7 linked regions of the Homo sapiens genome follow. The protein of the gene in region 2 purifies or fractionates together with the protein of the main gene of each other region. This does not show direct contact. Each region holds a gene or a part of one and is shown on either strand. Other genes may lie near its edges.

What was found.
Region 1: the proteins of NUDT9 (region 2) and IMPA1 fractionate together in Homo sapiens (co-fractionation; one large-scale study listed by BioGRID). This does not show direct contact.
Region 3: the proteins of NUDT9 (region 2) and MAGEB10 purify together in Homo sapiens (affinity purification with mass spectrometry; one large-scale study listed by BioGRID and IntAct). This does not show direct contact.
Region 4: the proteins of NUDT9 (region 2) and TRUB1 purify together in Homo sapiens (affinity purification with mass spectrometry; one large-scale study listed by BioGRID and IntAct). This does not show direct contact.
Region 5: the proteins of NUDT9 (region 2) and IMPA2 fractionate together in Homo sapiens (co-fractionation; one large-scale study listed by BioGRID). This does not show direct contact.
Region 6: the proteins of NUDT9 (region 2) and PHPT1 fractionate together in Homo sapiens (co-fractionation; one large-scale study listed by BioGRID). This does not show direct contact.
Region 7: the proteins of NUDT9 (region 2) and MAN2A1 fractionate together in Homo sapiens (co-fractionation; one large-scale study listed by BioGRID). This does not show direct contact.

Annotation. Positions count from the first base shown.
Region 1 is NC_000008.11:81,683,170-81,687,976, forward strand, and holds the start of IMPA1 (inositol monophosphatase 1), read right to left. Parts: upstream 3,157-4,807; 5' UTR 3,083-3,156; intron 2,795-3,082; exon of another isoform or gene 2,747-2,794; coding exon of another isoform or gene 2,594-2,746; intron 1-2,593. UniProt on the Homo sapiens protein: Phosphatase involved in the dephosphorylation of myo-inositol monophosphates to generate myo-inositol. Is also able to dephosphorylate scyllo-inositol-phosphate, myo-inositol 1,4-diphosphate, scyllo-inositol-1,3-diphosphate and scyllo-inositol-1,4-diphosphate.
Region 2 is NC_000004.12:87,432,430-87,436,468, reverse strand, and holds part of NUDT9 (ADP-ribose pyrophosphatase, mitochondrial isoform a precursor), read right to left. Parts: intron 1,489-4,039; coding exon 1,249-1,488; intron 1-1,248.
Region 3 is NC_000023.11:27,817,990-27,820,751, reverse strand, and holds part of MAGEB10 (melanoma-associated antigen B10), read right to left. Parts: intron 1-2,762.
Region 4 is NC_000010.11:114,936,462-114,941,183, forward strand, and holds the start of TRUB1 (pseudouridylate synthase TRUB1), read left to right. Parts: upstream 1-1,733; 5' UTR 1,734-1,792; coding exon 1,793-2,078; intron 2,079-4,722. UniProt on the Homo sapiens protein: Pseudouridine synthase that catalyzes pseudouridylation of mRNAs and tRNAs. Mediates pseudouridylation of mRNAs with the consensus sequence 5'-GUUCNANNC-3', harboring a stem-loop structure. Constitutes the major pseudouridine synthase acting on mRNAs.
Region 5 is NC_000018.10:12,001,860-12,005,898, reverse strand, and holds part of IMPA2 (inositol monophosphatase 2), read right to left. Parts: intron 1-4,039. UniProt on the Homo sapiens protein: Phosphatase that can use myo-inositol monophosphates, myo-inositol 1,4-diphosphate, scyllo-inositol-1,4-diphosphate, glucose-1-phosphate, beta-glycerophosphate and 2'-AMP as substrates in vitro.
Region 6 is NC_000009.12:136,847,419-136,851,524, reverse strand, and holds PHPT1 (14 kDa phosphohistidine phosphatase), read right to left. Parts: upstream 2,117-4,106; 5' UTR 2,095-2,116; coding exon 1,935-2,094; coding exon of another isoform or gene 1,929-1,934; intron 1,513-1,928; coding exon 1,388-1,512; exon of another isoform or gene 1,023-1,387; coding exon of another isoform or gene 965-1,022; intron 771-964; coding exon 678-770; 3' UTR 501-677; downstream 1-500. UniProt on the Homo sapiens protein: Exhibits phosphohistidine phosphatase activity.
Region 7 is NC_000005.10:109,787,217-109,791,255, reverse strand, and holds part of MAN2A1 (alpha-mannosidase 2), read right to left. Parts: intron 2,323-4,039; coding exon 2,208-2,322; intron 1,797-2,207; coding exon 1,729-1,796; intron 1-1,728. UniProt on the Homo sapiens protein: Catalyzes the first committed step in the biosynthesis of complex N-glycans. It controls conversion of high mannose to complex N-glycans; the final hydrolytic step in the N-glycan maturation pathway.

The sequences.
Region 1 (4,807 bases), on a different chromosome or scaffold from region 2:
GTGACAGCTCAGATTAAGGGAAACAGGAGAGATAAAGCTGGGGAGGTAGTGGGGATCATCCTCTACAGGGGGGCCTTAGGGATAAGACATTGATTGAAGGGGCTTCAAGAATCACTTCATTGTGGCTACTCAACAGAAGGGTAGAAAGTGGGTGTTGGTAGAGGGTCAGCAGATTTACATTCAGGATGCAGTAGTGGGAGGATACCTGATGATTGGCTGAAACCTGGGAGGGAAGTTTTGCTGGTAGAGAAGTTAAGAGAGTCAGAGATACCTGTTTTGAGGGAATCTAACAGATTGGCTACAGAGTACCAGGGACAGGAAGAGTTCAGATTTCCTCTGAATCTGGATGTCCAGATTTCCCACTCTGGCAACTGTATGGATAACCGTCACAGTCTACTGAAACAGGGAGCAACAAAAAAAGAGTCAAGTTTGGGATATAGGTAGGAGTTTGAGAGATCAGGAGTTTAATTAGCGGAAGATGAGAGGCCTCTGTAAAATCAAAAGATGTCAGTTAGGCAGCTGAATCATGGATCCTGAGCTCACAGGAGAGGTATGGCCTCCATGTAGAAACATGTAAGTTACTTGAGTAGACAGCAACTGAGGTCCTGAGTCTGGATAATCACTGGATAGGCATGATTGACAACTGTGTAGAAATGTGATCCCACAAAATCAGTATGATCCAAATGGAACAGACTGACTGTGGAAACCCAGCAAGGACTGTCCATTCGGATTCATCTTGGCCTCTCTGTCCAGCATTCCTTTCTCCTGTATATGGGGCAAGACCCCTTGTGAAATGGAGGTCTTACGATCTACAGTCAGACAAGGTAGGTCAGAGAATTTCTTCATGGCTAGTTCTAAGACAGAAAGGTGGGCCAAGATTCCTGTCAAGGGCTATGGGAGTTATGAGCCAGGAATGGTGGATGCAAACTATATATATATATATATACACACACACACACATACACACATACACACACACACACACATACACACACATACACATATATAATACAGTAAATATACTTTATATACTATATATTTAGATACTATATATAGTATATATACCATACATAAGTATATTTAGATACTATATATAGTATACCATACATAAGTATATTTAGATACTATATATAGTATATATACCATACATAAGTATATTTAGATACTATATATAGTATATATACCATACATAAGTATATTTAGATACTATATATAGTATATATACCATACATATTTAGATACTATATATAGTATACTATACATAAGTATATTTAGATACTATATATAGTATACTACACACAGTATCTTTAGATACTACAGTATACTACACATAAGTATCTTTAGATACTATGTGTAGTATATATACTACACATAAGTATCTTTAGATACTAATGTGTAGTATATATACTACACATAAGTATCTTTAGATATATATATCTAGTATATATATACTACACATAAGTATATATACTACACATAAGTATATATACTACACATAAGTATATTTAGATACTATGTGGAGTATAAATACTACACATAAGTATATTTAGATACTATGTGGAGTATATATACTACACATAAGTATATTTAGATACTATGTGGAGTATATATACTACACATAAGTATATTTAGATACTATGTGGAGTATATATACTATACATAGTATCTATGTGTAGTATATATACTATACATAAGTATATTTAGATACTATGTATAGTATATATACTATACATAAGTATATTTAGATACTATGTATAGTATATATACTATACATAAGTATATTTAGATACTATGTATAGTATATATACTATACATAAGTATATTTAGATACTATATATACTATACGTAAGTATATTTAGATACTATATATAGTATATATACTATACATAAGTATATTTAGATATATATACTATAAATAAGTATATTTAGATACTATATATAGTATACATTAAGTATATTTAGATACTATATATAGTATATATACTATACATAAGTATATTTAGATACTATATATACTATACATAAGTATATTTAGATACTATATATACTATACATAAGTATATTTAGATACTATATATACTATACATAAGTATAGATACTATATATAGTATATATAGTATATATACTATACATAGTATATTTATGTACTATACATATAGTATATTTATATACTATATGTAAGTATATATGTAAGTATATTTATGTACTATATATAAGTATATATACCTAAGTATATTTAGGTACTATATATAAGTATGTATACCTAAGTATATTTCTGTACTATATATAAGTATATATACCTAAGTATATTTCTGTACTATATATAAGTATATATACGTAAGTATATTTCTGTACTATATATAAGTATATATACGTAAGTATATTTATGTACTATATATAAGTATACAGAAGTATATTTATGTACTATATATAAGTATATATACTATACATAAGTATATTTATGTACTATATATAAAGTATATAAGTACATTTTATATATATTTTTATATATAGTTATATATAATATATGAATAGTTATATATATATAAATCACAGTACATTTATTGATGGGCAGGGTCCGTAGTTTACTCACTTTCATTTTCCCAAAGCCATAAACACCTGAACTGTTTCCTGCTGTTTCTGTCCTGGTCACAGCCTTCCAGCGTAGGAGCCAGGCCACCTTCCTTTTTGCCACCTGTCCCAGCACCGCGACTGCGGGCAGCACAGGACCTGGGCGCTGCCCCATCACTTAGAGTGACTACCTGGGCCTGGGGATGCACCAAGTTTCTAGGAGCTTTTCGGAGTTGGGGACATAAAAAGGGGCAATTATTCCACAGAAGCCGCCACAGAGGTTAAGTGAGGTCGCGTGAGCGAACCGCTACTCCAATGCCGGAACTGTTCCCGGTCGCCCAGGGCAGCTCCGGATAACGCAGCAGGCAGGGGTCACCCAGAGGCTGCCTCCACCCTAGGCGCCGACCGCGCACGGCGCTCGCGCCCGCTCCTGAGGAGGGAAGGGGCCTCCCTGGAAACCCACAGCGCCCGCTGAACCCGGAGGGTGCGGTGAGGAAAATAACGGTCTCACCTTGAGTCGGAGGACGTCCGGCTAGCTCTGTGAACGGTGTTACCGCACTCGTCTCTTCCGGAGGTAGAGGGGCTACTCGCAACAGGAAGTTCCGCCCTTAAAAACTCCATTCCTGAGGGGGCGTGGTTGCTTTGCTGGGCCCCGCCCCGAGCTGCGCCCTGCGAGCCTCTGCCAGGCCGGGCCGGGTCCTGACCCGCGCTGGAGCATGGGATACTGCCTCTTCATTCTAGCTTCTGGTTCTTTTCTCCTGCTTGTCTTTTCATCTCTCAGTTTTTAAACATTACTTCTCTCTTTACTTTGCCTTTTTCTTCTTTCGTCCTCCATTCATTCACGGTTTCCCATTTAGCTTGCTTTCTTCTTTCTCCCATTTATTCTATAGTACTATTTTGACAAAACCCAGATTGCAGATATGATTCCGATTATGCAGCTTTTAGGTGCTAACCTAAAGCTGGTAAACCTATACTAGATTAAAAAAAAATAAACTGATAACCAGAACCAACTGCCCAATTCTTGATAATTTACTTACATACTATTTATTGAGGACTTACTATGCTTCAAGCAATTGTGTGGGGTTTTATTGTTTTGTTTTTTTGAGACGGAATTTCACTTTTGTCGCCCGGGCTGAAGTGCAATGGCGCGATCTCGGCTCACTGCAACGTCCGCCTCTTGGATTCAAGCGATTCTCATGCCTCAGCCTCCTGAGTAGCTGGGATTACAGACGCCTGCCACAACGCCCGGCTAATTTTTGTATCTTGTAGAGACGGGGTTTCACCATGTTGCTCAGGCTGGTCTCAAACTCCTGGACTCAAGTGATCCGCCTACCTCGGCCTCCCAAAGATTACAGGCATGAGCCACCACGCCTGGCCGAAATGTGTTTTTATATGCATTATTTTCCTTAAAGTTTTAACAGTTTCTTGAAAAAGGTATGATTAGCTTTGTCAGACAGATGAGGAAACTGAGGCTCAGAGTAGTTAAGTGATTTGTCCTCAGGTCACACAGCAAGAGCAGAGAGTGAAACACACTGAGTTCAAAGTTTTGGGGTTCAGAAAATGATACCCCACAATGAAGGCCTCAGAAGCAGCCTTAGAAGGAAAAATTTTCCTCTGACTCCTTTTGGTCTCCTGTCTCTGGTCCCACATTCTTCCCCAGACTAGTCATAGAAGCTAGAATTCCTCTTTCCCAAATCAGGTCCCAGAAATCAGGACCCCTTTTTTATAAAGCCAGCCATAAAACATAAAAATACTACTCTAGGCCAGGCAAGGTGGCTCACGCCTGTAATCCCACCACTTTGGGAGGCCAAGGCAGGCGGATCACGAGGTCAGGAGATCGAGACCGTCCTGGCTAACACGGTGAAGCCCCGTTTCTATTAAAAACACAAAAAAATTAGCCGGGTGTGGTGGCTGGCACCTGCAGTCCCAGCTACTCGGGAGGCTGAGGCAGGAGAATGGCATGAACCTGGGAGGTGGAGCTTCCAGTGAGTGGAGATCGCGCCACTGCACTCCAGCCTGGGCGACAGAGGGAGCCTCCGTCTCAAAAAAAAAATATATATATATAGAGAGAGAGATATAGATAGATAGATAGATAGATAGATAGATAGATAGATAGATAGATAGATAGATATTACTCTAGCATTCTCCCTGTGTTTCTATGTAAAATCTGACCACGAAGAAATTATATGACTCACCCTGTCTGAGTTTAGGTCATAAGACCCCCATTCCAAAGAGG
Region 2 (4,039 bases):
CATGGTGGCACACACCTGTAGTCCCACCTGCTCAGGAGGCTGAAGTGGGAGGATCACTTGAGCCCAGGAGATCAAGGCTGCAGTGAGCTATGATCACACCACTGCACTCCACCCTGGGTTAGAAAAGGAACATAAAGGGATGGGAAAAATGGGGAGATGATGGTCAAAGGGTACAAAGTTTCAGTTATGCAAAATGAGTAAGTTCTAGAGATCTAATGCACAGTGTGGTGACTACAGTTAATAATACTGTTCTTGTCCAGCCTGGACAATACAGTGAGACCCCATCTCTACTTAAAAATAAAATAAAATTAGCCAAGTATGGTGGAACATGCCCATAGTCCTAGCTACTCAGGTGGCTGAGGCAGGAGAATCACCTGAGCCCAGGAGTTCAAGGTTGGAGCAAGCTGTGATCACATCACTGTACTCCAGCCTGGGTGACAGAGAGAGAGAGCACCAGTCTCAAAAATAGTAATAATACAGTATTGTATACTTGAAACTCGCTGAGAGTGGATCTCAACTCTTCTCACTACACACACAAAAAAGGTAACCATGTAAGATTATTTTAAATGGCTTGATTGTTGTAATCACTTCACAATGTATATGTATGTCAAAATATCACATTGTACACCTTAAATATATATAGTTACTTGTCAATCATATATCAATAAAGCTGGAAAATAAAAAAGAAACATAAACATAAAATGTTAATCAATGCGGCACTTCTATGAATTTAGTGAGAGCCCCTTCTCTCTCATTCTCCCCCTCTCACTCCCCTTTATCCAACCCTTTTCTATTTTTTCACACTGGTTTATCATCATCCTGTTCTTAGTAACCTGGAGAATTTTCCGAAAAATATTTTCACAAGTCTAGCTATGTTGGAAAATAACCACAAAGGATATTCTATTGATAACCCAAATAGAACACATGAAAACAAATACCATCAGCTGTTATTTCAAAACAAATATAACAGTACCAGCTGTTATTTCATAACACATAGCTGATGCTATTTGTTATTTCAAATCAAAACAGATTTAACTATTTGGAAGTATCCTCATAAAACCCCCAAAAGAATAAACAAATATGAACTGTTTATCTTTGGCAAGAATTCAAGCAAATGTGGAAACTGAGTTATAACACAGCTAAGCATAGATTGAAATTATTTTCAGGTGTCAAAAAGATACTTTACAAATAAAACCATTACCTTCTCTAAAAGTCTTATTCCCAGCTAACGCTGTCTTATTTGCTCACCTGATCTGAGGATCTGCCCACCTGGGTCCAGCCAAGACAGAGACTGCAGTGTATTCCACAGGCTTATAGTCTTGCCACTCAACAAGCCAGCCCACTTTCTCATTAGGAACCTGGCTTCGTTCAACTTTTGAACCTGGGTAAGGAGACGTCCGAGCCTTATTGTGAGAATTTTCTTTGGAACCATTAGAACCAGACATGACGTTGGTATTAAGATGAAACCAAGAAGATGAAAACGAGTTTCTGGGGGAGAAAAAGAAAAACATTTTACATAAATACCAAAAATATATTAATTAAAGAACCTAGGCCGGGTGCAGTGGCTTACGCCTGTAATCCCAGCACTTTGTGAGGCCGAGGTAGGTGGATCACCTGAGGTTAGGGGTTCAAGACCAGCCTGACCAACATGGTGAAATGCCGTCTCTACTAAAAATACAAAATTAGTGGCATATGCCTGTAATCCCAGCTACTTGGGAGGCTGAGGCAAGAGAATCACTTGAACCCAGAAGGCAGAGGTTGCAGTGAGACATCGCGCCATTGCACTCCAACCTGGGCAACAGGAGTGAAAACTCCATCTCAAAAAAAAAGCAAAAAAAAAAAGAACCTAATTCAAAGACCCAAAAACATACTTTCCAATTTCAAAAACCTTTAAGAATCAGAAAATTCAAATATGATGCATATTAGTCTAAAGGTCCAACATCTATGAGAGATTATTTTCAAATATACATTTTTTTAACATATAGCTAAATCTTATTAGCTGGAACCCACTCACTGAATTTATTTTAGACAAAAAAAAAAAAAAAAGGACACAAACTTACTTGTGTGTTATCTGTTGTGGAAGGGGAAGTTTGTTATGAAAACTCAAACCATAAAAACAAGTGTAGGCCAGGTGTGGTGGCTCATATCTGTAATCCCAGCACTTTGGGAGGCTAAGGAGGGCAGATCACTTGAGGTCAGGAGTTCGAGACCAGCCTGCTCAACATGGTGAAACCCTGTCTCTACTAAAAGATACAAAAATTAGCCAGGTGTGGTGAATCCCAGCTACTCGGGAGGCTGGGGCAGGAGAATTGCTTGAACCCAGGAGGCGGAGGTTGCAGTGAGCCGAGATTGTGGCACTGCACTCCAGCCTGGGCGACAGAGCGAGACTCCATCTCAAAAAATATATATACATATAAAAGAAAACTGTTTAAAGTCTACGTAAAGGAATATATTTTTTAAAAATCATCTATAGTCTAACATACACATAAAACGTATGGCAAAAATGGTTCAAAGGAAAAACAGGAAAATAGAAATTATTGAAAAATTTTTTACACTGAAAATGAACTAATGTAATATAATTTGAAGGTAGACTGTGGTAAATATACAAATTGTAACCTTTAGAGCAAAATTTAAATAAAATATACAGGCATGAAATAACTGGATAGCATATGCAAAAGAAAAACCAACTAACCTTCACCCTAACCACACAGCATATACAAAAATTTTTCATATCTCATCTTGCCTAAAAAGTTAAATGACTTCTAATTATTCTTAAAATACGAATTCTTGATGACCTTAAATTAGGACATCTCAAGTGGGAAAGGAGATTCTGAGGACATGGTAAAATTATGATAGCTCCTTTCCCCTGCTCTCACAATACCAGTCAATTTGCCCTTCTTAAGACAAATGATTGACGGGGCAAATATCCACTTGACCAAGGTTGTGGACTAAGTCAACAGCATGTGCCTCCTGATCTCATACAGTGAGAAGCATGCAACAGTCATTTGAGGTATTTCTCCCAAAAATATATGACATGAATCTGAACATTAGGAAACACAAGACAGACCCAGGTTAAGAGACATCTTACAGAATAAAGGTGTGTACTCTCTAAATTGGTAAGGTCATGAAAGATAGAGAAAGGTGCAGGAACTCTTCCAGATAGATTAAGACTAAAAAGACATGACAATTAGAAGCAATCAATGATCTTGGATGGGCTGATGACCATAAAGGAAAAAATAAACATTGCAGGATAGGTAGTAAAGTTTGGATGGGGTTGTATAAATAATTTTAAAAGGTGAATTTTTTTAAAGTATCTATTTACTCCCAACAAAGAAAAACCCAGGACCAGATGGCTTTACTGATAAATTCTACCAAACATTTAAAGAAGAATCAACACCAATATTCCCTCAACTCTTCCAAAAACGTGAAGAGGAAGTAAACACTTCCAAACTCACTCTGAGGCCAGCATTATCCTGATACTAAAGCTTGACAAAGACACTATAAAAAAACTACAAACCATTATCTTTGATTAATACTGATGTGAAAATCCTCAACAAAATAATAACAAACAGAATTCAACAGCACATGAAAAGGATTATATGCCATGACCAAGGGAGACATTCTTGGAATCCAATGATGGTTCTATATAATGAAAATCAATCAACATAATGTATCACATTAACAAAATAAAAAAAAAAAACACAATCTTCTTGATTGATGCAGAAAAATTATCTAACAAAATTCAGCACCCTTTCACGATTTAAGAATATTCAACAAACTAGGAATAGAAGGAAATTACCTCAACATAATAAAGGCCATATATGAAAAGCCCACAGCTAATGGTGTGAAGGTGAAAGACTGGAAGTTTTTCCTCTAAGATCAGGAACAAGACAAGGATGTTCACTTTAATCAATATAATACTGGAAGTTCAGCCAGAGCAATTAGGAAAGAAATAGAAGTTCTAGCCAGAACAATTAGGAAAGAAAAAAAAAGGAAAAGGTATCCACATTGGAAAGGAAGAAGTAAAACTGGTTGAGCA
Region 3 (2,762 bases), on a different chromosome or scaffold from region 2:
ACTCAGGGTTTTCACCTTGGCTTCTGCTAGGCCCTGGGACTTCACCCTGTGATGGCCTGAGACCTATCCCCTCAGAGCAAGGCCCTCACATCTCTGAGTTACAAAAGGAGAAAGTGAGAGAGACCTCAGCCTAACATATCTACCCCACAGTCCCTCAGGGTTGACAGCATAGATGGGACTCTGTGCTGTCCCCTTTTGATCTGGGGTGGATGGCTCCCTCAGAACTCAGGATTCTTTTTACTCTTCTTAGGGCTTGGGACTCCTTCTCTGCTGACCAGAGGCTGACACTCTGGTCCAACGCCCTCCCCTCCCTGAGTTCTCACCAGAATTCAGAGGGTGCTTCATCAGGCCCTGTCCTGGACCTGTCATGAATCCATGGGGCCCGTCTTTTGGAGTGGAAGTCCCCCTCAAACTTCACTCAAGATCTTTGTATTCCCTTTTGGCAAGGCCTCAAAATAGCTCCTCTGACAACCTAAACCTCTTCACTTCTTTGAGAAAGCAGTAATGGAATTCAGAAAGTGTCACAATAGCCACTCCAACCTGGGACCTCCCTGGGCTGAGAGCAGGGGCAGACTCTGTTATGAACCCCTCTCTTTTGTGGTGGGTGGTTCCTTCTGATCTCACTCAGTTTCCTCACCTTTACTTCTGTTAGGGCCTGGGACTCTTATCTGCTGGCCTGAGGCTGTAACCTTGGTCCAATGCTGTCCTCTCCTTGAATTTCCAAAGAGGGAATTCAGAGGGTGCTATATAAGAGGTTTTTTTTTGCCCAAGGTTGGCTACCACTAACAGCAAGGGCATGGCTATTACCCTTACACCTCACAAAGGGTCTTTATCTTACCTCCTAGCAGGGCCTGGAACTCCTCCCTCTGCTGATTTAACACCTCCCTCTGGCACCAGTTTTTTAACTTCCCTAAAAATCCAGAGGTGGAACTCAGAGACTTTTATATCTGGCCACTCCATTCATGGGCTTCTCAGGCCTGAAAGCAGAAGCCTGGATGCTGTGGAGCCCTTCTGATCTGGTGTGGATAGTTGCCTCAAATATTAGGGTCTTCACCATCACTGCTGGAAGGTCTGGAACCCTGCTCTCTACTGGTCTGATGCCAAAGCATGGTTCAATGCTGTCACCTCCCAGGATCCTGGGAATTCAAAGGGCACTACATCAGAGGATCCCTGTCCAGGGTCTCCCAGGGCTTACACAGGGCTGGGATTCTGTTGGTCCTTCTCTCTTCTGGTATAAAGAGTCCTCAGATCTCAGTTAAGGTCTTTAACTTAACTCCTGACAGGACCTGGAAATCTCTGGAACTCTCTTTTCTGCTGATTTGAGGCTACCCTGCTCAGACTAATGCCTTCATTCTTCTGAGAAGTTAGAGTCAGAAGTTGGGGAAGCCAATTCTAGCCACCCCCATATGGGACCCAGTGCTGAGAGCAGGGGTGCAGCTCTTAGAAGTAAGGGGGTGGCTTGTGTTTTGTGGGAGTAGGGAATTCTGACAGAAGTTGCATAGGGGTCTTTCATTGACTCTGGGGGGCCTGGGACGACTCCTCCTCCTGATCTGAGTCATTCAGCTTTAAAACAAAGCCTTCGTCCCCAACCACTTCACCCCACAGTCCCATATCCCTGGACTACAGAGGGTGAAGTGAGGAGGCTTCTGGGCCTAACATCGAGGCATTGGCTTAGAAATGTTAACAGCAGGGGTGGTCTCTGTGCTGAGCAGTCTGTTATGGAGTGGGTGACTCTTTCAAAACTTCATCAGGGTCTTCATTTTTATTCCTTTTAGAGACTGGGACTCCTCCCTCTGTGGATCTGAGAATGACACCCGGTCCAATGCCCCTACCTCACAGTGAGAAATGATGTAAATTTTACTACAGATCATGTAATAACTTTGCAAATGGCTAGTGCAGAATCCCCCTTTATAAAAATTTTCAGTTGATTCGAATCAAGTCAGGATTATAACAGTAAAGAAGATAGAGATTTGGACTCCACCTATACTTGTTACCTGCAGTCCATTCAATAAGGAGCTGCAGCATCTGCAATGGTTCTCCATCTACCCTGGAAATACTTGCCTTGAAAACCAGCACCCTACTACAGTGTTTGGTGGCAACAAAGGCCACCAGACACAGCAACAAAAAATCAGCCCTCTGTTCTGCAAAGAAGTCAGTGATGTTAGGAAGTATTCGGAGTTGGGGATAACATCTGGATCCTTGTTTAAAGGCATATGCACGCTCAGCCTTTTAGTTACAGAGTCAGTGAGGTAGTTCGTCTCAGGAAATCCCTTTTCCAATTCCCCCCTCCTTGAATCTACACTATGCCACTACTCATTGGTACTATTTGCCCTGTTTTAACTGTCATTAATCACCAATCATGTCTATTTGCACAGCTTCAACCTCAGTGGTAGGAGGGCCACATACTCAAGGGGGGCCACATATACAAGGGCCACATACATTCTTTCTTATAGGCATCAAGACAGCTCTCAACCCTGCTACACTGGAAAGGGTGCCCTGAACGACCAGAGTAGTGAAGAGATGTAGCTCTCCCAGGATCAATTAATATCATAACTGGTATTAATTGACGCAGGGTAGCAAGCCACACTCTGCCTGAGAAGTGGGAAGGGAAGACTCTAGCAGAGCACGCCTCTGGACAGCTCAGCCTACAACTTCATGCTGGTAATGATGATTCAGAGATTGCCAAGGCTATTCAGAAAAGTTGTCCAAGACACCACCAGTTTCCTCATCTTTACTCCTTCTTGTCCCATTGCTACCCCACG
Region 4 (4,722 bases), on a different chromosome or scaffold from region 2:
CAGAGAACTTTCTAGGTTCTGAATAGTGTGTCAGTGTATTTCTGATAAATCTTCTCCCCCTGTGCCCCCAAGCTGGTATGAATCAGTTTTCTGTTGACCAAAGAGCCCAAACTCATACATGTATTGGAGCAAAAAAAACCTGTGAATTCAAGGCCTGCCCAATGTGGGAGATGTTGATTACCTTAGAAAAACAAAGCTTGGTGCTTCTGATCCCAAGAATGCCGATATAATAGCAGAGTAGCATTAATTTTGTTGTGTCCTAGCATCCCAGAAATCAAACATGCAAGAAATATACATTTCTTCATTTTCTTTAAATCAGATTAACTCTGGTCCTACACTGGGCTGATGGAAAATTCAAATATAAGCATCATATGTTACCCCTAGTTCTGTTCTCCCTCTGCATCCCTCACCCCCAGAGCCACAAGAGAAATAGGGAGGCTTGCTGATGTCCGGACAATTGGGAAAAGGCCTCTAATCTCCAAGTGCCTTGGAGTCATCCAAGTCATCATTGATCAAGCCTTGCAACCTTCCCTGCAAGTCCCTGGCTCTCTGCTTCCATGGCACAAGAATAGAGAACTCTTTCCTGAGGCTAATGGACACCATGCTCCTTTGGGTGCAGTCATCCCTTCTGAAGTCACAACATCTTTGTGGAAAAATTAACATCTTGAAGCAGGGCCAGGTGTCCACTAATCCTGTGATATGCCAATCTTTTCAGTTAGCTTAGGCTTTTATAATAGACCACAAGAGTAAGTGACTTCCTTCTAGGAGTTTCAGCTTTCCACCCTGAAAAAACTCCCTCAAAGATTTTTTTTTCCTTTTAATAAATTGTTCTGCCATGTGTCTGTTGCACGAATGGGTGCAAGTTCAAATGGGACCCCATAACTGGTGATTGTGAGCAGCTAAGGGGCATCACTAAAATACTAGATATTAAAGTCCAAGAGTATGATGAGGACAAAGAGTGGTTGTAAAGAAACCTAAAAAACAATGAGGGCAAACTTTATCTGTCTCACAATAGTTATGATAGCATTTAATGTTTCTGGTGCAGAAGTAATTTTTCTCCACTCTGCCTTGTGCTGGAATCAAAACAATATTCCTCAATCTTGTTAGGGAGTGAATAACTTTTAGGGAGAAGGTCTCAAATGGGAAGTGGTTTAAAGTTTATGAATTGCAAGAATACCTTTTGATATCTAAACAAAGTGTACTAAGGAATTCAACCCACAGAAGAGCTGATATTCAAAATCAGAATTATTAAAAATTGTAGTGGGGTCAGTGGGGGTTTGGGGAGGGTGAACAGGAGTGCATGAAGAGCATCAAAATAAGCACAAGTGATTTACCATTGGCTTGGTTTCTTCGGGGAATTTGAAGAATTCATACTTATTTATACGTTTTCAAATATTTATTTAAGTGCCTACAACATGTGAGGCATTTGGGAATGTCTCAGTTAACGTGGTACATAAGTTCCTTGCTCTAATAGAGCTCACATTTGGATGTCTTCTAATTCTGAACCTGAATGTAAGAGCACAATACAATCAATGAAGCAGTGAGCCCAGGAAGCCATGGATCTTCACAAGCCTCAGGAAAAGTCAACATTTAAAATTTTCTATTTAAAGTCCAAGGGCACAGCAAGCTCTTGGTCTATATGGGAAGGCCATGGACTACAATTCCCACAAGTCCGTGCGACCTCTCCGTTCTGCGCAGCTTCGCGGTATGAGGAAGAGGGTCCTGTCAGGCGCACTCTTGTTGCATCATCAGCGTGCACCTCCACGATGAAACAGGTCTGGGCTACAAAAGTATGGCCGCTTCTGAGGCGGCGGTGGTGTCTTCGCCGTCTTTGAAAACAGACACATCCCCTGTCCTTGAAACTGCAGGAACGGTCGCAGCAATGGCTGCGACCCCGTCAGCAAGGGCTGCAGCCGCGGTGGTTGCGGCCGCGGCCAGGACCGGATCCGAAGCCAGGGTCTCCAAGGCCGCTTTGGCTACCAAGCTGCTGTCCTTGAGCGGCGTGTTCGCCGTGCACAAGCCCAAAGGGCCCACTTCAGCCGAGCTGCTGAATCGGTTGAAGGAGAAGCTGCTGGCAGGTACTGCAGCCCGGGTGGGGACCAGGCTGAGGCGGTCGCTGCGAGAGGGGAAGCACATTAGGCTTTTTGCGACGCTCGTGATTCAAGAGACAAAAGGAGGGGAAAGGGAGACTGACCATTGAATTAGCTCTGGACAGGAATCTCGGGCATCTCGGGCTTGGACTTGCCCTGGCACGAACTCTTGTAGCCTACTTGGCAGTTGTAGTTCTCAACGGGAGGAAAAAAATCCCGTACTTACACAATAAAACCCTGCCCTTGGGCGTGCAGACCTGTTTTCTGTAATCTGATCGATCCCTCAGGAGGCTTTTGTTGGGTTCATGTGGATGAACCCCAAAAGGAAGTACTGGTTCTGCACCCCTAAAGTTGCATTCCTCAAAATGTATTGGAAATGCAGATATACTTCGTTAACCAAGACTTAATATAGTCGTTTTCACATTTTAATGGGCCTAACAATTACTTAGAGTCTCTTGTACAAATACAGATTCCTAATCCCTGCCCTGTCCGAGATTGTGATTCGGAGAGTTCGGGGTATTTTTAGGAAACTGCAATTCTAAATAGTTGCTCCAGGTGATTCCAGTGTAAGTAGTTTATGGACCACATTTGAGGAACACTAAATATAACTTGGCCACTAAGCTGAGAGTGTTCATTTTATTGATTCGTTTATTCACGTACACTGGGAAAATAGTAGAAAAGCCTAGAGAATCACCCCGTTAATCAGCTCGGATGATTTCACACATAAAGCATCCAGGATCCTTAAGTTCATTGGACATATACAATAAGCCAGGTCTGTGCTAGCCTATAGAGACTTGAAGATGAAAGATAACTCTCTTACCTTAACTGAGCTGATAGCCTAGTAATTTCTGCACCTTGTGGTGGTAAAACTAGTTAGTTAGGTTATTCAAGGCCCTCCAGAGTTTGGCCGTATTCTGTCTCGCCATTAAACCAGTAACAGGGACTTTCTTACATTGTTTAGTGTCCCATGGAAAACTTTACACTTTAAAAAAATGCAAAAACAAATTATTCTGATGGGAATTATAACTGACAGTACAGATTTAAGTGTTTATGGGCAAATAGGTACACTCCTGCAGATGTTTAATTCCAGTATCACGACTACTTATTCTTTTATTAAAGTTTTGCTTTGTTGCCTGAAAGTATGGGTCATACAGAGGACGTCAAAGTGAGGAATTGCATCAAGGATATGTATTGTGGTATCATCATAGTTTTTTAGTTTTCCTTCATAGAACTGCTGCTTTCCTGATTTGTTAGCTAAACTCTGGGTTTCTTTTCTTTTTTTTTTTTTTTTATCCTTAAGGTAATGATTACCATTCTTTCAGACAAGTTTCTGACAAAGCCATATTCTGGCCTTCTGGCTAATCTGCCTCTAAGAACTGAAGTTTCTTGTTGAATCTTGGTTAAAATGTTTCAAGGCTCTTGCTAGGCTAGAACCTTTAGCTAGAGACATTCTCATTATCCTCGATTTCTATATTGCTTGTGATTGGCCTATTTTGTATTTATGTTAGTTAGGCTAGGGCTTTCCAAATGTCATTGTAATTGGCTGTCAGAATTGCTTGGGAAGTTTTTGTTTTTGTTTTTGTTTTTGAGATGGAGTTTCGCTGTTGTTGCCCAGGCTGGAGTGCAATGGCAAGATCTCGGCTCACTGCAACCTTCCCCTCCTGGGTTCAAGTGATTCTCCTGCCTCAGCCTCCCAAGTAGCTGGGATTACAGGCATGCACCACCATGCCCAGCTAATTTTGTATTTTTGGTAGAGACGGGGTTTCTCCATGTTGGTCAGGCTGGGCTCGAACTCCCGACCTCAGGTGATCTGCCCGCCTCAGCCTCCCAAAATGCTGGGATTACAGGCATGAGCCACCACTCCCGGCCTTGGGAAGGTTCTTAAAGATACCTACATTCTAATGCCATGTTTGACAACCATGATCAGTGGTTGTGTCCTCTAATACCATTCCTTGTCTTTCTTTGCATTGATTCCTATTATGCTACAATCTCTACTGTTTGTCTGTTGGGATCCTTCAAAGCCCTAAGTGTACCAGAATTTTATAGCTAGAAAATAATAAAAATCCACGAATACTTAGTTCAGTGGGGTGAACCAAATTCCCCACTTTATATAGTAGAGGCAGTACGTCTGCAAGTTAGAAGGAGGTATATTTGGGCACAAAGGGAAGATAGTATATTTATGGGGCCTTCTTACTCCAAGGGGTGTCAAGTTGAAAATGTAAAGAGTTCCCCAAAAGGTTTCTGTTAATTTATGAGTGAGAGATCCATGATGGATTGCAAGTGACAGATCAAGGGTTTGAAACTGAGGTCTGGCCTTAGAAGTTTATGTCAAAGCAGACAACCATACCCTTCTAAGTATGGTGATGTCATAATTAGGGAATGACGCCAGGGTGTTCCAGAGACCATGGTTCTGACTCAGTAGAGTGGTAATTTTGTTGGGAGGCCGAGCCACCCAGCATATCCTTTTGGCCATTTAATCTGGCTTCTGCATTTCCACTGTTGCTTTGTTTTCCCTCCTCCCTTCTCTGTCCACTCGTTTCGTTTTCTTTGCTTTATTTTCTTTCTGCTCAGTGTCAGTGTTGATAAGGAAGGTTTGATGGGCTTGGGGGCAGGTATAGATCAATGTAGCAGT
Region 5 (4,039 bases), on a different chromosome or scaffold from region 2:
GGAGGAATGTGCAATTCTTCTCCTTTTTAAACCTGACTTCAAGTAGGAAACTGAAGCGGTGGAAAGAAAACTGCCAGTGAGCCCTGAAGGAGGAGGCAGTGTGGGTCTGCAGGCACTGACACTCCACACCCAGGACAACTCACGCTGCAGCACCCAGACCACCCACGCGGCATGCCCACGTGCCTCCCAGGACACTCGGGAGCAGGAGCTCTGTCTGTTCATTCGCCAGATGCGTGGGACACCCTTTAGGGAAGTCACCAAGCAGCTTGTTTTCCCAGCAGCAACTATTAATATAAGTTAATTTGTTAACAAAGCTTCTGCTGTGTGTAACCTTTATTATTTATCTATTTGTTTTTTAGGTTTCATTTAGTGTAACCCAGCAAGTACTTTTAGAAATTTTTTTTTTTTTTCTTGGAGACATGGTCTCGCTTTGTCAGCCAGGCTGGAGTGCAGTGGCACAATCATGGCTCACTGAAGCCACAAACCACTGGGCTCAAGCAATCCTCCTGCCTCAGCCTCCTGAGTAGCTGGGACCACAGGCATGCATCACCACACCTGACTAACTCTGCCTCACATTTTTTATGAGAATAACTCTAAGTACCCACACTGAGCACTGGATGTTTTTCAGCAGCTGATCATTCATACCCTAGAGCTGTCTTCCTCATCACCCACCTTGTGTACACCTCTGCCCATGAGACTGCCTGCCCGCCTACAAGGTGGCACGAGCATCCCCCTTCCCACCTGCCTCATGCTTGTGGGCAGCAGGGAGCAGGCTTCTGCACTGTGTGGCTGCAGCGGTGTGAAGGCCAGCAGAGGCGTGAACCGTGCTCGGTCTTTGGAGGCACCAAAAATACTTCCCTGGTACATGGGAAGAGATGCACAATTTTTATTCACTTAAACCTGATTTTACTCATGTAGGAAGCTAATACCTGTGAGATGAAAGACAATGTTTTACAGCTGTCTGCAGAGGGAGTGGGGAGAGTCTGCTCTGCAGACATGACTGTAGACAGATGTGTGAAATCATAAAGACCTTCCTAAAAGCCACTGGAACATCTACATAGAATCCACAATATAGGCAGGGCACGGTGGCTCACGCCTGTAATCCCAGCACTTTGGGAGGCTGAGGTGGGTGGATCACTTGAGGTCAGGAGTTCAAGACCAGACTGGCCAACATGGTGAAACCCCGTCTCTACTAAAAATATGAAAATTACCCAGACATAGTGGTGCATGCCTGTAATCCCAGATACTTGGAAGGCAGGAGAATCGCTTGAACCCGGGAGGCGGAGGTTGCAGTGAGCAGAGATTGCACCACTGCACTCCAGTCTGGGCTACAGAGCAAGACTCCATCTCAAAAAAAAAAAAAACCCACAATATAAATAGGAAAAAAAATGCACATGACTAAATTTAGGGAAAAAAAGAACATTCCATACGTCTATCCAATAGACAAGAGGAAAATAGCAACTGGATTAAGGCTAAAAGTTTGGTAATAAGTTATTATAGAATATTATATCCTACTGCATAACTTAACCACTTTTCTTTTTTAAAAAATAGTTTTAACAAACCCTCCTTATAATTTTGACAGCTGAGTGCCTTTAAGCCCCTTTTTTCTTTCTTTCTTTTTTTTTCTTCTGGCTACTTAGTCTGTTTAGTCTGTGACAAGAAGGTCAGGATCATCCCTGCTGTCCACAAAGGAGATGATTTATGATACTCTGTCCCCATCTTCACAAGCCACTGCCCAGTGGGAAAGCAGCTGGATGTCAATGTTCAGCTGGTGGTGGCTGGGAGCATGTTTTTCCCATGTCAAGGATTCTGTTTGATGTTTTGCTTGACTCACGCATTCAACAGACACTGCTCTGTGCTGGGCACTGCAGGGCAGCAGGTTACATGGGGGCTCTGGAGCAGGGCTGGGAAGACAGCTAAAAACACTAGACCCTTGAGCTGCTGACCTCATCTCTGGGCCTAGGCCAACCCAGAGAAGCTCCAACAGGCTGCTCCACAGAAGGGACAAGGACGGGGTTTCTATCACTATAGCTCAGGGATGCTACTGAATCTTTTCCAAGTAGCTACACTTGTATCTCACTCAAAATCATCATCTGAAAACAGGTTTAGGCGCCCCACAAAGCCAGGGCATGGCAGGAGACAGCTATGTGGCCAAGGCCAACAGCACACTCCAAAGACCCAATCTATAAAAACCCGGCCTTACCATGCTGCCTTTTTTTTTTTTTTTCCTTTTCTTTTTTTTTTTTTTAAGATGGAGTCTCACTGAGATGCCCAGGCTGGAGTGCAATGGTGCAATCTCAGCTCACTGCAACCTCCACTTCCCAGGTTCAAGCGATTCTCCTGTCTCAACCTTCCAAGTAGCTGGGACTACAGGCATGCGCCACCATGGCCCAGCTAATTTGTTTTCCTATTTTTAGTAGAGACGGGGTTTCATCATATTGGCCAAGCTGGTCTCGAACTCCTGATCTCAAGCTATCCACCCACCTCGGCCTCTGAAAGTGCTGGGATTACAGGTGTGAGCCTCTGTGCCCAGCCCTGGTTTGCTTTTTGTCATGTTACGAGTTAAATGCTGGGACTTCAGGGATGACCATGGTCAGGTCCCTCATTCACAGGTGAGGAGTTCGAGGCCCTAAGTGGTGAGATTTGCCAAAGCTGCTAGGGCCAGTGACAGAAGCAATTTTATTTATTTATTTTTTATTTTTTGAGACAGAGTTTTGCTCTTGTTCCCCAGGCTGGAGTGCAGTGGCGTGATCTCAGCTCACTGTAACCTCCACCTCCCAGGTTCAAGCGATTCTCCTGCCTCAGCCTCCTGAGTAGCTGGGATTACAGGCACGCACTACCATGCCCAGCTAATTTTTTGTATTTTTAGTAGAGATGGGGGTTTCACCATGTTGGCCAGGCTGGTCTCGAACTCCTGACCTCAGGTGATCCACCCGCCTCGGCCTCCCAAAGTGCAGGGATTACAGGTGTAAACCACCGCGCCCAGCCTATTTATTTTTTTGTTTTGAGGCAGGGTCTCACTCTGTTGCCCAGGCTGCAGTGCAGTGGGGTTTTTCATAGCGGCTGCATCAATTTACATTCTCACCAACAGTCTGCAAGGGTTCCTTTTAATCTACATTTTTTTTTTTTTTTTTTGAGACAAGGTCTTGCTCTGTCACCCAGGCTAGACTGCAGTGGCAGCATCACAACTCGACCTCCAGGACTCAAGCGAGCCTCTCACCTCAGCCTTCCAAGTAGCTGGGAGCATAAGCGTGCACCAGCATGCCCAGCTGATTTTTTAATTTTTTTGTAGAGATGGGGATTCACCATGTTGCCCAGGCTGGTCTCAAACTCCTGGGCTCAAGCAATCCTCTGACCTTGGGCTCCTGAAGTGCTAGTATTACAGACATGAGCCACTGCACCCCACCAGAAGGAAGTTTAAACCTTATCATTCTTTGATTCAGTCTACACCTGTCTTCCAGGTCAAGGAGCAAACCTTTGGATTTCATGGATGAGTGAAATAAAATAATAAAACTGGGGAGCCTGTATCAGGTTTTTAAAAAAATGTTATTAAGTCTATTTTTAATATCATTTCATGAAAGACTAAAATCAAGGAAAGAGAAAAGCTCAGAATAAAAGTCTTTCCTAAAGGAGGATGAGAGGCAACTTCAAATTAAATATATTGTTTAAGGGATATATTTAAATACTTAGAAAGCAGAAAAAAATCACAATGTCCTATTTTACAATATGTATACAATTTTCTCTCATCACAAATTTATCAACTTTTCTATGATCTAAAATACAATTAAATCCCCAAAATTTACTTTCTTTTTAATCTTAGTCATTGGCAAAAAAAACTCACTTCACATAAATATGTTGAAAAACAACTGCATTTGATGTCAATTTTTGAGGCACACTGAGCAGAGAAGAGAACAGCTGCTTTCACCGTGTCCACACATTCACCCTCAGAGCTAGGGAAGATGGGGGTGACACACAGACTGGGGCTGTCCGTGGTGCAGCCACAGTCCACTGACTTGTGGGCTAGAGCTTGGGAACCCCA
Region 6 (4,106 bases), on a different chromosome or scaffold from region 2:
GTCCTGCCCACAGCCCTGCCGGGTGCAAGAGGGACCTGGGAGGGGCCTCCAGAGTCAACGTGAGCCTGTGGGGTAGATGCAGCTGTGCGACCTGACCCTGGATACTGGTAGGCCCCATGGGGCTGGTCATGGAAGGAGCCTGCAGGTCACGGAAGGAGCCTCAGGGCAGACAGGACACTGGGGAGCCCTGGGATGGGCTCATAGGAGGGAGCACTGGTGGGCGCCCCAGGTCTTGGCCAGCCCGAGGGACCAGGCCCTGACTCCTCTCGCAAGGGCTTGCCAGACCTCCTCCAAGATGCCCTGGAGGACGATGGCCGTGGGAAGAGCAGTCAGGCCATCAGCGGGCCCCTTTATCAGACCCCAAAGGGCTGAGTGTGCACCGCCACTCCCTGGGGCCACTCCTGTGTTCCCCCACCCACCTGCTTTAGTTAGGGTCTGGGGGCCCCCGGAGGTGGTGACGCAGGGTGCAGGAAGCCAAGGACAGAGTTCAGAAGCCGGCAGGTGTGGCAACACGTTTAATTCTGTGGCCAGGCTAGCCTGTCTCCAAGGCCTGGTGGACAGCACGTCACCAGAGGCTGCCGCAGGAGCAGGCAGGGCCAGCCCTGCAAGAGGAGTGCAGGCAAAGGCGGGGGCTCTGAAGTGGCTGCTGGAGGCAGCAGGCCCCGGGCTGGGAGTGCTCAGTAGCCGTCGTTAGCCCAGGTGACCTCGTAGTCGGGGTACTTGGCTTTGATTTTCTCAGTTGAAATGGCGTGCTGGGCAGGACCATAGGCCTGGAGAAGAGAAGACGCCTGCTGGCACTACCTGGACCCTTCAACCCGATACCCGGCTCTGGGCATCCAGCCACCAGCCACACCAGAAGCGAGTGTGGGAAAGGGATAGGCAGTGCCTGGGGATGCCAAACCCACCATCCCGACCGCCCTTGGGGGCTCCCCTGGGGAGAGGCGACCTCCACAGGCAAGCAAACCTTGATGGTGGATCCTGGGGCCTGAGGCGCCCAGAGGGACGCACGTGGGTCTCATCTGCTGGTGGTTTTTGTGAAGAGCACAGGTGGGGACTCTGAGCTCCACCCAGGTACTGACTGCCTCTGGGGGCCCAGGGCCCAAAGTGCTGGAGGACAGCTAGAGCCCAGCAAGGCCTCCCAAGGCAGGGAGAGGAGACAGCCGGCCATGTCTGGGGGTGTCCGTCCCACCCCTCAGGTCTGGCGTGTGCTCCATGGGGGAATGCAGGAACACAATGGGCCCTGGAGGGAGGGCTCTGCCGCCGACCCTGGGAGAACCCCAGGAAGCCTGCGTGCTCAGCTGGGGCCACGGGTCAGGGCAGCAGGCTCAGGTGGGCCTCGAAGCTGGTACTGGGGCCTCCGGCAGGGCGGGACGGGGCTGCGGCTCACCATGGAATAGCCGTACACGTGAATCTTCTTGTCCTGACTCTGGTGGGAGATGCGCCCGCCGCCCAGACACTCACAGTCGCAGCCTTGCTTCTGCATGTCGCCCGACACTTTGTCGTAGATGTCCGCTGGGATGGGAGGGCGGCCTCAGGACGTGCCCTGGCCGCCCTTGGAGGCCGCGGGAGGAACTCCCAGCCGAAGGGGTCTGAAATCCCAGCTCTGAACAGCCCCTTCCCCAGGAGAGACGAAGCCCCTTGAGGCTGGGACAGGGATGAATGAGCGAAGGAGGGTGGAACCGGGGAGGGCGCGGGAACTGGGAGACTGCTGGGGAGGGTGTCAGGCCGTGTCACGCCCTTCCCGCCCAGGACCTCAGCCTGGGTCAAACCTAGCAGGGGCAGGACTCGGAGCAGAGCGCAGTCCGCTACGGCCCGCAGCCCCGCCCCCGCCCCGCCAGCCCCGCCCCTGCCTCGTCAGCCCCGTCTCCGTCCCGCCAGCCCCGCCCCCGCCTCGCCAGGCGTGCCCCTGGCATGCCCGCAGGTCCCGCCCTCACCATGGTACTCAGCCCACTTGTAGCCGCGCACGATCTCCTTGCTCTCTGCAGCCGGAGCCCCGGAGCGGGGAGCCGAGTGGACTCGGATCAGCACATACTTGAAGACGCCGTCGGAGTCGATGTCCACATCAGGAATGAGAGCGAGGTCCGCCACCGCCATGTTCCTCCTCCCGGAGTCCCCTCCTCCCACCCGACCCGGGGGCCGCTTGTACTGCGGGAGGCGGGCTCTGCGAGAGCGACGACCAATCCCGTCGGGGAATGCTTCCCAAGGCCCAGCGCCTCAGCCAATTGTACCGCCGACCGAGGCACGTGCTGACCAATCGCAATCCAGTTCCTTGCCGCCTTGCGGCTCCGCCAGCCCCGCTTAAAGGAAACGTGGAATCGGGAATGGGTGGTGATGAAATCCAGCCAACGGAGAAGTTCCTCTCCAGCGGGGTCCGGTGGCACCCTTGGAACGGGGCAGTTAGGCGGCCCGCGAGGCTGGGGCAACGAGGGAGGCCTGAGGGACTTGCCAGCCCTGACCTCCTGTCCCGCACGTAGTCCGAAGACCACCCTCCCCGTGGCCCCCACCGCCCAAAGGCCTCCCTCTCTCCCCCTCCCACCGCCCGAAGGCCTCCCCCCTCCCCGCTCTCCACCGCCCGAAGGCCTCGCTCTCCACCCCCTCCACCGCCCGAAGGACTCCCTCTCTTCCCCGTCCACCGCCCGAAGGCCTCTCCCTTTCTCCTCTCCACCGACCGAAGGCTTCCGTCCCCAACCCCGCTACCGGTACAAGGAGGCAACGGCAGCCGCTACATTCAAGTTCTATTTTACTTGGTTCGAAAGCTCTTGCCCCCTGGAAATTATTCCGGTCCAGGGGCGTTCCCGGCCGGCCCTCAGGGGTGGGGCCGAATGCAGAGGCCCTGGGGTAGGGGGCGCGGGGCGCGGCGGCGGGTGGGCAAGCGGGACGCCTGGCCGGTGCAGACGCGCGGGGACGAGATGGGCGTGCCGGGTGCGAAAGCAGGAGCGGAGGCGGGGGTGCCCAATTTCTCTCACTTGGTGCCCCCTCCCCTGGCTCCGAAGTAGGGCTGGGGACTCCAGGAGGGCCCTTGCGTTTGGCCTCCACCCCTCTCCCGCATACCCCACCCTCCAGAGAGCTCTGGGCGCGGACCAGGGTGCACTTGGGGGACAGGTGGAGGCCGGGCCGCCGGGCTTGCGCCTCCACGCCCGCAGTACGGCGTGCGGCCAGAGCGGGTGTGCGGGGACCTCTCGGGACAGGTCAAGCCCCCTCGGGTGGGCTTCCACGCTTACCAACTAGCTCTCTCCCTCACCTGCTCGCACCACGCTTTGCCCTCCAGGCTCCCACCTGGGAACGCCCCGTCCCTTGGTCCTTCCTCTCCTAGCCAGGTGTCAGCTCTGGCCAGGCCCAGGTGCTCTGCTTCCCCTGTTCAGGTCCCCTGCCCCTTCGGCTGGGAGACTTGCATATCGGCCTGAAGACCTCCCTGCGGTTTTTCCCAGCTCCTGCAGGGCCCAGACTGCAGCGGCTGGAGGCGAAGGGACGGCAGGGCGCGTGGCGTGGTTAGTGTGCTGGCTCCGACCAGCGGGAACGCACTGCGCACCGTCCGCCCTGCCCACCGCCTCGGCGGGACGCGCTCGCGCACACGGACGCACAGAGGTCGACCAGGGTGTTCTCCAGCGAGGAGGCAACACAGCCGCGGGAGGCGGGGCGGGGCGTGTTTAAAGTGACAGACTGGGCTTTGGTTACGTCGGGCTTCTGGACGAGGGGAAACCGGAGTCGGGGAGGCTCCAGCGAGAGCCCCGCGGACCGACGGGGACCGGATCTCTACGGGTGGGGTCTGTGCAGTAGTGACCCCTCCGAGTGAAGGCAGAGCTCGGCGGTCCTCAGGCCCACCCCGCCTCCCAGCGGGGAGCACCGAGGGCGAGGACCGACTTCTTCTGGGGATCCTCGAGGGCGAGCTGGGAGAGGGAGGAGGCCCGGAGGAGGGAGAGGGGTTGCTGGGGGTGGGAAGGCGAAGGGCCTGTGAGGAACACTACGGGGACGAAGGGCCGGGGGGTGGGGGCCTGGGCGGAGCTGGAGGCCGAACTGAGCGGAGCTTGGAAGGCTGGGGAATTAGAGGCGGGGCCTAGAAGAAGTCGGGGTGGGGCCCTGGCGGGGCTCGGGGGCGGCCCTGGGTG
Region 7 (4,039 bases), on a different chromosome or scaffold from region 2:
TAAGAATCTGCCAATCAGAAGTATTCCTAATTTACCAACCTACAGAAATAGGAAGTCAATATTTGATAAAAAAAGAACTGTAAAGAAGTAATAGGAAGATAAACCCTATACTATTTAAATAAAAACTATTTAAAAAGAAATATCAAAAAGCAATCATTTTACTAATAGCCCCCGAAATTCCATTTATGTTTACCTGTAGTTAAAACTCCTCAATATGAAAGCTTAAAAATATTTTTCTCTTTCATTAATATACTACATTTCCTAACTTTCTTCTTCTGGCATTAGAAAGGCAAAATTATCAATTATTGTTTGCTAAGGCAAAGACAGTGAAGGAAGGAGATAAACTAAAGGGAACATCTTTTCTTCTGACCTATTATGGTTCCAGCCCTGCCTCACTGCACCCAGCATAAGAGCACCCAGAGATGGGGCACAAATCACTTATATCAGCATATATTATTCTTATAACCAGCAAAAACAAAGATCTTCCTCCACCAAAATATAAAAAGAAAGAAAAGTTAATAGATGAGAGAACTATGCCTAAAGCCAAATAGATTTACTAATGCCAGAGTTTACTAGGAACACAATATTTAAGGAACAGGCATATAACCCCAAATGCATCAAAACATAACTTATTTTAAGACAAAGAAAACATTTTGTAATTTTATAAGAAATATTTCTTTCAGTGTCATTATCCTTTCATCCTAACTATGACCTGGCAATCTGAAAGCTCCTAAGGCTTCTGCCGTGTTACAGAGAACATTAGTATTACTAAAATAAAAAAACTTATTATCTCGTTCTAAGGAATAAGCTGTATACACCTTATGTCTCTACTTACTAAAGAAATTTAGACAACTAAGACTTTAGTCTATGCTTAACAAAAAGTCTCAACTTTACTAGCAACTATAAATTCTTTTTACATTCATTCCATTTATTTTTAAATAATTTTAATAAAATATATTTAGTTGAAATAATGAATTACTCTTTGAAATTATTGTTTTATCCTATAATTGGCAAGAGGAGGTACTAAATATCTTGATTCTGACAGTTAAAGGTTATATTACAAAAAATAACCACTGTGTGCCTGGGTCAACTAGGAAATGACCAACAAATATTTGGTTATTAAAAACAGATACCTTGCTGTTTAAAGAAATACCAATAAAACATAATGCATTTCTTTATAATTATTAGGTAGCCACCAATTAAATGCCCTGGTTTAAGGTCACTGAACACCCTTCCCATTTACTTTAGCATAAATCAATAGTGCTAAAACAAGGCTGTTTCACCAGCAAAATGACAGTTATCTAATAAACAATTTACAGTAGAAACCTTGATCTTCCAATAATAATAAAGTTTCTTCTTTCATATAAAAATAGGATCAGGGATTAATGAAAACAAGGTAGTTAAATGAAAGGTTAATCAAGAAAGGATATAATCTGAAAATTTTATAGAGATAAGAAAATGTTTTATAAGCTATATATTTATCATGCTATACCTTATATCTGTGAGAAATATTGTTATAATAATTTATTCAGCAGTCAATATACTAAGCACTGTGTTAGCTATTGGCACTGAGCATAACACAGTCATGAAAGAAAATCCATTTTTTAGGAGTTTTTTAATTAATAAATTGATTGCCTCAAAATATACGCTAACTAAAAACCAGAACCATAAAACCAAAAACTATTAAGCCAGAAAGTGGTAAACATTTGTAAGAAATTATGAATTTACCTTGGCTCCGCACTCAGCCTTATTATATTTTTTTGTGGCAGAGAATCTTGTGATTTTTGTTTCAAATCCTATAAAAATGAACAGTAATTTTTTAATTTTACTTAACACTCCATGGACTCATCCTGAAACCAGAAGACCATTCAAATTCAAGTTTAGGAGGAACAGATTAAGGACTTATAAAAAGTTAAATATCAAGGGGTTTCTAATTAAAGCCAAGCAAAACAACTAGTTATAATGCCCCAGTTGCCTTACTAACATCTTAATAGTATTCTAAAACCCTACATATTTCACATACTTTGAAATATTTATAGAAAAGATGAACATACAGGTAATTTATATTAAGTGATAAAAATTCTTTCAAATAATGTACAAAAAATTATATTTCAATGTCTTTTTTCATTAAGCTTCTCATCCTCTTTGCTAATGCAAGAACAATGGAATTACACATTTTTATGATGACCATAGATGAAATTACTAACCATCTCCAGGAAGGTATCAGGAGAGTAAGAGTCGTATGTGAGTTTGTCCTTCAAAATAAGAAGAAATGCAGAATTTCCAATTATCTTCTCCAAAACCATTAACGAATGAAAAAGTCTGTAAATCAAAAATTTTATTAGTCTGAGAAACAATTTAAAAATCTGCATACAATATTTTCAGTTTCATTACTAATAGCCAAACCACCAGTATCTTCATCTTGTATTCAAAGTGAAACCTATAATGAATCTATGACAAACCTGCTCTTTTTTCCCCTAGAACTAAGTACATCAGAAGATATAACTGACAAGAATCCATTTAAAACCGAAAGCTTTCTGGACACACCTGAAACACATAAACATAATCAAACTATGTATACTTTCTATGAATATCGCACCAAATAATAATATCCAGTAGGATCACCCCAATAACTTTGAAGCATTCTATCAAAAAAACAATGATTTGCTACTTTAGAAAAAGCTCTAACAAGGGTTTTAACAATGAATAAAAACATGAGATAATTCAGCTCACAAGAAAATTCAATTCGTATACAAGTCATACCCCAAGAATTAAAATAGATGTTTTGTTTAATTTAGTTTCATGTTCTTGTTCAAGAGAACCAGAACAAGAGTTTTTGACAGATGTGAATAATGAAATTGTCTTTATCCCTGTTAAATTTTTTGGTCACTGAAATTACTAACTATATTCAAATTGTATTTTTATGTCTAAGGAATCAAAAGTCTACTGATTCCAGACCAATTCTGAAATACATCCGCTACTGCTGAAGCATTACTCATGGAAAAAGAACTTGCTTGAAGATTTTTTTTTTTTTTTCCTAATTCAGTTACGTTTCTTGAAGGCTCTACAGACCAGGCATCCATAGGCAAATTCATATTGGAGAAGTACGTAGAAACTCCTCGCTAATCACGTTTTCAATTATATTATTTTTTCCAATACAGAAAGCAACTTTGGATCTATGCCTTGAAGACATTTTTGTTGTCATGCAACAACAACAAGAAAACCTATAAAAGAAGTTAACTTCTTTTTTGCAGAGCATTAATATTTCCTTCAGAGATGTAAGTGATCATGATCAATGTTATTAATTAAATACATTTACATGGCAAATCTATAATTTTAATGCTAAAATCTTATGGATTTGAGTTCATGCCATAATCTAACTAAACTTCCCAACATATTCAAATGTTTTCCTAGACAGCATTAAGTGTTTTCACCATACTAAAACACCATACGAATATGGTTCAGTTATGACAGCAAGACCCTCAATCTAAGTTCCTTTCTATTGTCTACAGGGCTATCTTTATTAGGCAGCCTGAATCTGCAGAGTGAAAGTCATGTTCTCCACCACCTAAAACCAGATGTATTAAAGAGTCCTAATTAAACTGAGTGAAAGCCAGGATCAATGTCTGCATCCTAAAGGCACACATGCAGCCTTCTCATAAGATGAGTACTAAAGACTACAGTATATCACTCCCCAAATGTTTTCTCAGGATGTATAGAGCTGCTTTGCTTAAAACAAAACAAAATGAAACACAGTACATTTGGGAAACATTGGGTAAAACAAAATTCTAAACGTTTCAACATTTCATTAATACAGGATTTTTTTCAGGGCCTCTAATTTCCAAACATACACTTATCCTATTAATACGGAATACGGTTCGGGAAAAATCACTTGGGAATCACAGTTTCTTAGTTTGCTGTTATGGTTGTTGTATTAAGGAGATGTTAGCATGTCTGCCACTATATAGTTTGTCTACATTTTAGGACCCTCACGCTCACCCTGTGTTCCGTTTTCTCCCACCTACCTTAATTACAAGTT